2 separate regions of the Homo sapiens genome follow, and region 2 is linked to region 1. The links come from fine-mapping of genetic effects on gene expression. A gene starts in region 1. The other region holds a variant in brackets. All regions are shown on one strand. Distances are between the middles of the regions.

Evidence for each region.
Region 2: its variant is fine-mapped to the expression of LINGO1 in hypothalamus (GTEx, PIP 0.98).

What each region holds. Positions count from the first base shown.
Region 1 is chr15:77,630,977-77,635,361 of GRCh38, reverse strand. It overlaps LINGO1 (leucine rich repeat and Ig domain containing 1), which reads left to right and starts at 2,450. Exons shown (of 2, transcript NM_032808.7): 1 at 2,450-3,052. The coding sequence starts at 3,047. RefSeq lists enhancers at 1,497-1,626, 1,068-1,631.
Region 2 is chr15:77,138,370-77,142,754 of GRCh38, reverse strand. All of the region lies in intron 8 of PEAK1 (pseudopodium enriched atypical kinase 1), which reads left to right. Among named protein-coding and RNA genes, the nearest start is that of TSPAN3, 69 kb to the right of the region's middle. The variant A/G (reference allele first, on the strand shown) is at 1,588.

The DNA of each region.
Region 1 (4,385 bases):
TACTCTCACCAGGCCCAAACTAGACCCTCAAAAAGGCCTATCCTCCAAGTTGTTCCCCCAAAGCTCCCCGTCGTTTCCATTGGAATAAAACAGGGAGAGCTGGGAGGGGTCATGTCTTTTGGAGACAAAGGGAAAGGGGAATGGCTTGGATGCCATTGACAGTGGAGAACCGAGGCCAAGGGGCTCTTCCTCCCAGACACAGCTCCGTGGTCATCCCTGCTGCCTCCGAGGCGCGGAGGGATCATTGTGGGCACCAAAATACCCCACCCTAGGACCCCAGCTTCCTCCGGTAGCACCTGGGGGTTAGCGGGGTGGAATGAGTGGGCTCTCCCCCATTTCTCCGCCGAGATCACTGAGGCAGGGAGCAGGTGAGTCGGGGGCGGAGAGATGTGGTGGCCGCGCCTTGCCTGCGTCAGTCACCGCACCAGGAATAGCCCTCGCCCCCGCCCCCGCCCCCCAGCGGGTCTGCGCGCCCGCCGGGTGCCTGGCGGAGCCTTTACGCAGGAGCCAGCGAGCGTCTATTCCTGTCGGGCTGGTGGGAGGAGGCGGCGCGGGAGGGCGGGAGCGCACGGGTAGCTCACAAACAGCCGGGGTGGGGGGGCTGGGGAGTCTGGGGAGGGGTCCAGGCAGCGCGGAGTTGAGGGACCGGGGAGTCGCCTGCGCTGGGCTCTGGCAGGGAGGGGGACTCCTGTGCTGGCCTCCCTGCTTCACCTCCCACCTGTAAGTCCTTCTGCCGAGCCTGCCCCCTGCTGGTCCATTCAGCCATAGAAGACGAGTCCAGTTCCCTTTCCGTGGCTTGCTGGCTGTGTGACCATGGGCAGAGCCTGGAACCTCTCTGGGCCTGGGCTTCCCTCCCTCTGTCACAGGGGAACAATAGTGCCTCCCCCAGAGTTGCTGGAGGGTGAACGTACAGTTCACAGTAGAGCATAGCATGGACGCCTGCTAGGAGGGACTCTAGCTAGGCCTAGGTTGAGGATGGGCATAGACATAGGAGACAGGAGAAAGTGCTCCAGACAGGACTGTCCAGAGCAACGGTGTGCCAGAGAGACTGAGAAGTACCCAGAAATGGTGCAGCTGGAACAGAAGGTCTGTGCAAGCCTTTGGGCTGTGTGTGAGGCTGAACAGCGAGAAACAAGGTGCTGTTGGGGGTGGGGAGAGGTCCCTCCGTGGCAACCAGGCATCTCTGCAATGATGTTGCGCAGGCTTCCTGGGAGAGGGGGTGTCACTGGAACTGGGATTCCAGCGTCTGCCCCAGAATCCGAGAGGCTTTGGGCTAGATCCCCTCCCCCAGCCTCAGCTGCCCCTGTGGACTCAAGCTATTAGGAGTATTCATGTGCTAATGGGTTGTTCCCAGCAGGGGAGGAGGGATGGCCGTGCCGGGCGGTGTCAGCATTGATGGTTATTCTAATAAAACTGGCTTGGTGGTAAAGGGCGTCTGGCTTCAAGGAGATGGAGGGGGTAGTATAGGGAAAAAGGTGAGGTCCTGAGGGTGGTAACCTACTCTGCAGGCTTTGCCAAGACATCCCTGCTGGCCTAGTTTCTGTATCTGAGGATCAAGGAGGATCTGGATCTCCGAGGAGAGGTCCCATTCCTTGGGCCCGTCTGAAGTTGTGGCCCCAGCCGAGGATCCCCGGGACCATTCCGGGAGGAGGGAACAGTCAAGCCCAGGCGGAGGCTCTGCGCTGCCCTCTGCTGGCCACTGGGTGCAGGGCCTCCGGACGGAGCGGGCCAGAGAGGCCTGCCGCCCTCTGCTGGACAGGAAGCCAGGCTGGGCGGGGACCCCGGCTCCTGGGTAGAGCTGCCGGGCCAGCGCGGCTTCCTCGCCGTCCCCTGGAGCTTCCCATTCTGCCTGCCTCGCCCTCCCGCGCTAGAATGTGGGCCCTCTAGCCTCGCGGACTTTCGAGAGGAGGGGACAGGGCCAGGACGGGGGCTCCCGGTCGGCCTCCCCATGCCGCCCTCCAAACAACCCTGTTCGTGTAGGGAGCCCTGTCCGTCCTCGTGCGTGTGTTCGTCCACAGCCCAGTTAACACGTGTAAACACACTCGCGCGCTCACATGCACACGCATGTGGCAACACAAAAATCACACACAACGGTGTGCGCGCATACACCCAGGGAGGACCGCACGCCGGACTCCCCGACACCCGGCTGGCCCGGGACTCGCCCAGAGCCCCGGACCCGGAGGGGCGCGGCCGTGTGCAGAGCTGGAGCGCCTGGCTGGTGCGCCCCTCGCCTGCGCACCCCTGCCTGTTTCGCTGCCCTAAGCGTGCAGGGCAGCGGCTGGGGCGCCCCTCGCTCTCCGCCCCCTCCGCTGAAAGGAGACGAACCACCCCCCACCCCACCACCACCATCACCAGGTTTTGCGGCCGCGCCTTCTCCTCCCCCGCCCGGCTCCCGCGGCTCACTCGCTCCCTCCTCCCTCGATCCCTCCTCCCTCCCTGGCTCGCTCCTAGTGCTCCCTCCCCGCGCCGCTGCAGAGCGCGGAGCCCGAGCGGGAGCCGGCGCGGGAGCCGGAGCGGGCGGCGGGCGACAGCGCAGGCGGCGGCGGCGGCGGTGGGTCCTGGTCCCGGCCCCGGAGGGCGCGGAGTCCCCACCCGCGCCGCTCCGGCCCCTCTCCCGACGCGGGGCGCCGAGCAGCATGCGCGGCCGCTGCCCGCCGGCCCCGGCCCCGCGGCGGAGCGCGCCCGGCCTCGACCCCGGCCCCAGCGGCAGAGGCGGCGGCGGCGGCTCCGGGCCGGCCCAGGGGGCAGAAGCAGGCTCGCGCAGCCCCTGTCCCGCGGCCTGAGCGCGCCCGCCCATCCGCCCGCCGGGGCCGCGGCCTCCCGCCTCCCCACTCCCGAGCCCCGGCCCCGGCTCCGGCTCGGCTCCCGCCCGCGCGGGGCGGACAGACGGACAGCCAGCCCCGCGAGGGCGCGCGGACTGCCGGGCGGAGGTGTCGGAGGAGGAGGAAACGGAGGAGGGGGCTGGGCAGGGGCTGGGGCCTGGTCGGGCCGGCTGGAGAGACATGCGATTGGTGACCGAGCCGAGCGGACCGAAGGCGCGCCCGAGATGCAGGTGAGCCAGGCGGCCGCGGCCGAGCCCCGAGCGGGCAGCCCCGCGGCGAGTGCCCCTGGGGGCCGCCATCGGCCCTGGCTGCGCCCTCCTGGGGTTGCAGGGCACCTCGGTGCCACCCAGACCTCCTTTGGGGTCATAGGCCTGATTTCCCCTCAAGCCTCAGAAATGAAAATTCTTCCTTTTCCACCTCCCCTCTCTCCAACCCCAACAAATTCCGGGTTTGTAAGCTGGGAGCCTGGAGCTGGGGAGGGGCCCCCACGGGTGTCCCAGACCTGCTCTGGTCTCCCCTTCCTGTCCCCCCTCCCATTCTGAGTATTGGTCACTCTAGAGGGTAAGCCCCCTGCTCAGCCCTGGGTGGGTACCTCCCTTCGTGGACCCCAGGTACCCCCAGGCAGCCCCCACCAGCACCAGACACTCCCTAGCTGGTGGACACAGGTCAGGGGCTGGGTTTCTCCACAAGCTCCAGCCTGGATGGCAGCTCCCCACCACACACAAGCATCGCCCCTTTCCAGCTCCTGCCCAGTGAAAAGGAGATGGGGAGTAGGGAGAGTGGAAGGAAGGGAGTTGGGGACCGGGAGCGCCCAGGAACGCTTTAGGGGCCTCCCCTTTGTCTGCGTTCAGCCCGGGCTTCTCACCTCCTCTTGCCCCACTTTTCATTCTAAGGCAGAGCGGGTGGGAGGTGGGAACCAGCTGAGAAGAGGGAGGTAAGGAGGGAGCCTCCTGCTCCCCCTCACACCCTTTTCGGGGTGGGCTGTGGGCTCTCTGCTCTCAAGGCATGCCAGGAGATGTGACCCTCCGGGCGGATCCCACTTTGAGAAGGAGGGGTGGGGCCAGGCCAGTGGGCAGCCCCTCCCGGTTCCTGCTGGGGTCGCAGCCCAGCCTGGTCCAGCCTGACTGTGCCTGCACCTCCTCTTTGTTCTCAGAGGCCTTGGGGTTGGGGTGGGGCAGAAGGGGGCCTGAGAGGATGGGAAGAGCTCTGCCCTGAGCGGGTGGGAGTGCAGGAGGCCCTGAGGTAGGGGCTGTGGCATCTGGACAGCCCCTTCCTGCTCGCCCAGCCCTCCCTCAGTCCTCTGCTTGGTTTGGGCAGCCAGAGGGCGCATAGCCCAGCCTGGCCCGCGGCTCTGGGCTCAACCCTGTTGGTCATTATGCCAGTGGCTTCAGCACTGGTGCCTCCCATGCCCAGGGAGCAATGAGCCGGGACACCCAGGCGGCAGAGAGCCTGGGGCTTCCCCAGATCCAGCGCAGAGTGTCAGTGAGGAGAAGAGGGCCAGCTGCTCCCAGACCCTTTGTCCTTGTATAAGCCAGGGAGGAGCTCAAAATCCTCACGCCTCTG
Region 2 (4,385 bases), 490 kb after region 1:
GAATCATATAATATGTGGTCATTTTTGACTGACTTCTCTCACTTAGCATAATGTTTTCAAGGTTTTTCCATGTTTTCAAGGTTTTTCCATGTTTTAGCATACATACATCAGTACTTCACTCCTCTTATGCCTGAATAATAGTCAATTGTATGGGTGTACCACATTTAATTTATCCATTCATCAGGTGATGGACATCTGGTTTGTTTCTACTTTTTGGCTATTATAAATGCTGCTGCTTATGAACATTTGCATATAAAGTTTTGGTGGACATGTTTTCAGTTGTCTTGGGTATATACCCAGGAGTCGAAATGCTGGGTCAAATAGTAACTGTATGTTTAACTTTTTGAGGAACTACCAAAATATTTTCCAAGATGGTGGCACCATTTTAGATTCCTACTAGCAATGTATAAGCATTTGAATTTCTCCACATCCTCACCAACACTTGCCTGTGTGTTTTATTACAGCTAACCTAGTAGATGTGAAATGATGTCTCAGTTTGCATTTACCTCATGAGTGATGATGCCAAACATCTTTCCACACACACTGGCCATTTATATATCTTCTTTGAAGAAATAGCTATGCAAATCTTTTACCCATTTTTACTTGGGTTATTTATCTTTTTCAAAAGAGTTCCTTATATATTCTGAATATAAGTCTCTTATCAGATATGTAATTTGAACATATTTTCTCCCATTCTGTGAGTTGTCTTTTTTACTTTCTTAAAGATGTCCTTTGAAGCATAAAAGTTTATAATTTTTATTGACTTCCAATCTACTTTTTCTTTTGTTACTTATACTTTAGGTATCATATCTAAGAAACCATTACCTAACCCAAGGTTGCAAAGATTTATTCCTACGTTTTTTCTAAGAGTTTTTAGTTTTAGCTCTTATATTTAAATTTTTCATACATTTTTAGTTAATTTTTGTGTATAGTGTGAGGTAGGGATTCAATAGCATTATTTTGCTTGAAACTGTTCTTTCCCTGTTGAATTGTTTTGGCAATCTTGTCAAAAATCAGTTGGCCTTAAATATAAGTGTTCACTTCTGCGCTCTCAAATATATTTCATTCATCTATATTTCTATTCTTACGCCAGTACCACGTACTCTTGATTACTATAATTTTGTAATAAGTTGGAGTTGGAAAGTGTAACTTTTCCAACTTTATTCTTTTTAAAGACTTTGACCACTCTAGGTTTCTTCTATTTCCATATGAATTTTAGGATGAGCCTGCCAGTTTCTGCAAGAAGTCTAACTGGAATTTTGATAGGGATTACATTAAATCTGTAGATCAATTTTGGGAATATTTCCCTTTTAACAATATAAAGTCTCTGATCCATGAGCATAAGATATCTTTCCATTTGCTTTTTAGTTTCTTTCAGCGATGTTTTATAGTTTTCAAAGTACAAGTCTTACACTAGTTTTGTTAGGTTTATTTCTGGTTACTTTATCCTTTTTGATGGTGTTGTAAATAGAATTGTCTTCTTAATTTTATTTTGGATCATTCATTTATAATGTATAGAAATGAATTGGTTTTTGTATGTTGATCTTGTATCCTGTAAACTTGCTGAACTGGTATATTCATTCTAAT[A/G]GTTTTTTTGTGTGTGGATTCGCTACGCTTCTCAATATACACGATTATATTATCTGTGAATGATGAGATAGTTTTACTTTCCTCTTTACAATCTGGATGTCTTTATCTCTTTTTCTTTCCTAATATCCCTGACTAGAACCTCCTGTACAACGTAGAATAGAAATGGGTGAGGTGCAGTGGCTCACACCTGTAATCCCATCACTTTGGGAGGCCAAGGCAGGCAGGTCACTTGAGCTCAGGAGTTTGAGACCAGCCTGAGCAACATGGCAAAACCCTGTCTCTATGAAAAATAGTAGTCCTGGCTACTTGGGGGACTGAGGTGGAAGGATCACTTGAGCCTGGGAGGTCAAGGCTGCAGTGAGCCGAGATTGTGCCACTGCACTCCAGCCTGGGTGACAAAGGAAGACCCTGTCTGGGAAAAAAAAAAAAGACACAAAGAAAAAGAAAAAAAAAGAAATGGCAAGAACGCAAATCCTTGTCTTGTTCCTGATATTACAGGAGAAATTTCCAGTCTTTTATCATTAAGTATGATGTTAGCTCTTTTACAAAGATGCCCTTTCCTTTGTCAGGTTGAGGATGTTCTCTTCTGTTTCTAGTTCATTGAGTATTATTATTATGGAAAGGTGTTTGGTTTTATCAAATGTTTTTTCTGCATCTATTAAGGTGATTATGTGAGCTTTTTTCCCCCTTTATTCCATTGGCATGGTATATTACATTGATTGATTTTCAGATGTTAAACCAACCTTGCATTCCTGGAATAAATCCCACCTTGTTGTGGTGTATAATCCTTTTTTATATGTTGCTGGATTCGGTTTGCTAGCATATTGTGTAGATTTTCACATCTGTATTCATAAAAGACAGTCTCTAGTTTTCTTTTTATGTCTTTGTCTAGTTTTAGTATTTAGGTAATATTGGCTCCATTGAATTCAAGTTGGGAAGCATTCCTTCCTCCTGTTCTATTTTTTGGAAAAGTTTTCAAAGGATTGGTATTAATACTTCTTTAAACATTTGGTAGAATTCATCAGTGAAGCCATCTGGTCCTGGGTTTTCTTTGTGGGAATTTTTTAAAATACTAATTCAATTTCTTTCCTTATTATAGATATCTATACAATTTTACTACTTTCTGTCTTTCAGTAGTAAATATTTATTCCTTCATTCAAGAAGTTGTTATTGTTGATTCTATCTAGACCTTGTTCTTGGCACAGAGATTACAGCAGTGAATAAAACAAAAGCTCTGGCCGCCTTGAAGCTTAGCATTCTCATATTTTTTCTCTTCTCTTACTCTCTTGCTCTCTCTCTCCCCCTCCCTCCCTCTAAATATATACATATAGACACAATTTATATATATATTATATGTGTATATATATGTGTGTTGTTGTTTGTTTATATTTAATATTGTTCTATTACTTATAAAAATATTACTACATGACATGGGTGGAGAAAAGAGGTCCTTGAGTTTGCAATATATATTGCTGTAGCTTATATAAATTCTTAGATATTCTTGAAGAAAGTAGTGTGCATGGGAAATGGATATAGTCATGTGCTATATAATGATGTTTTGGTCAACAATGGACTGCACAAACAACACTGGTCTCATAGGATTATGATGGAGCTGAAAAACTCCTGTTACCTAGTGACATAGCCATTGTGACATCACAGCGCAAGGCATTACTCACGTGTTTGTGGTGATGCTGGTGTAAACAAACCTACTGCACTGCCAGTCATAAAAGTATAGCACATACAATTATGTATAGTACATAATACTTGGTGATAAACTACTGAGTTACTGGTTTGTGCATTTTCTGTACTATTACCATAACTTTAAAGTGTACTCCTACTTATTTTTTAAAAAACTGTAAAACAGCCTCAGGCATGTCCTTCAGGAGGTATACCAGAAGAAGGCATTGTTATCTTAGGAGATGACAGCTCCATGTGTGTTACTGCCCCTGAAGACCTGCCACTGGGACAGGATGTGGAGGTGGAAGACCGTGATATTGATATTCTTGACCCTGTGTAGGCCTTTGTCATCATTGTCCCTGTCTTCACATGGTGCTTTTTCTTATAAGGACACCAGTCATACTGGATTAGGGCCCACTCTAATGACCTCATCTTAACTTGATTACATCTACAAAGACTTTATTTCCAAATAAGGTCACATTCACATGTACCAGGGGTTAGGACTAGTAATATGTGTGTTTGTGTCTTCGTTTTTAACAAAAAAGTTTATAAAAAAAAAAGTTTTGTTTAAATAGGGAAAGATTTGTAGCATAAAGACACAAAGAAAAAACAATTTTTTTTTTTTTTTTGAGACAGAGTCTCGCTCTGTCACCCAGGCTGGAGTGCAGTGGTATGATCTCAGCTCACTGCAACCTCCGCCTCCCAGGTTCAAATGATTCTCCTACGTCAGCCTCCTGAGTAGCTGGGACTATAGGCATGCGCCACCATGCCTGGCTAATTTTTGTATTTTTAGTACAGACACGGTTTCCATGTTGGCCAGGCTGGTCTCAAACTCCTGGCCTCAAGTGGTCCACCCACCTTGGCCTTCCAAAGTGCTGGGATTATAGGCATAAGCCACCGTGCCTGGCCCAAAGAAAAAATATTTTGAAATAGTGTACAGTGTATCTTAAGCTAAGTGTTATTATAAAAGTTAAACAAAATTTATAAAGTTAAACAAAATTTAAGCTTATAAAGTTAAAAAGTTAAGTAAGCTAAGGTTAATTTATTATTGGAGAAAAATTTTTAAATAAATTTAGTATAGCCTAAGTATACAGTATATATAAAGTCTACAGGAGTGTATG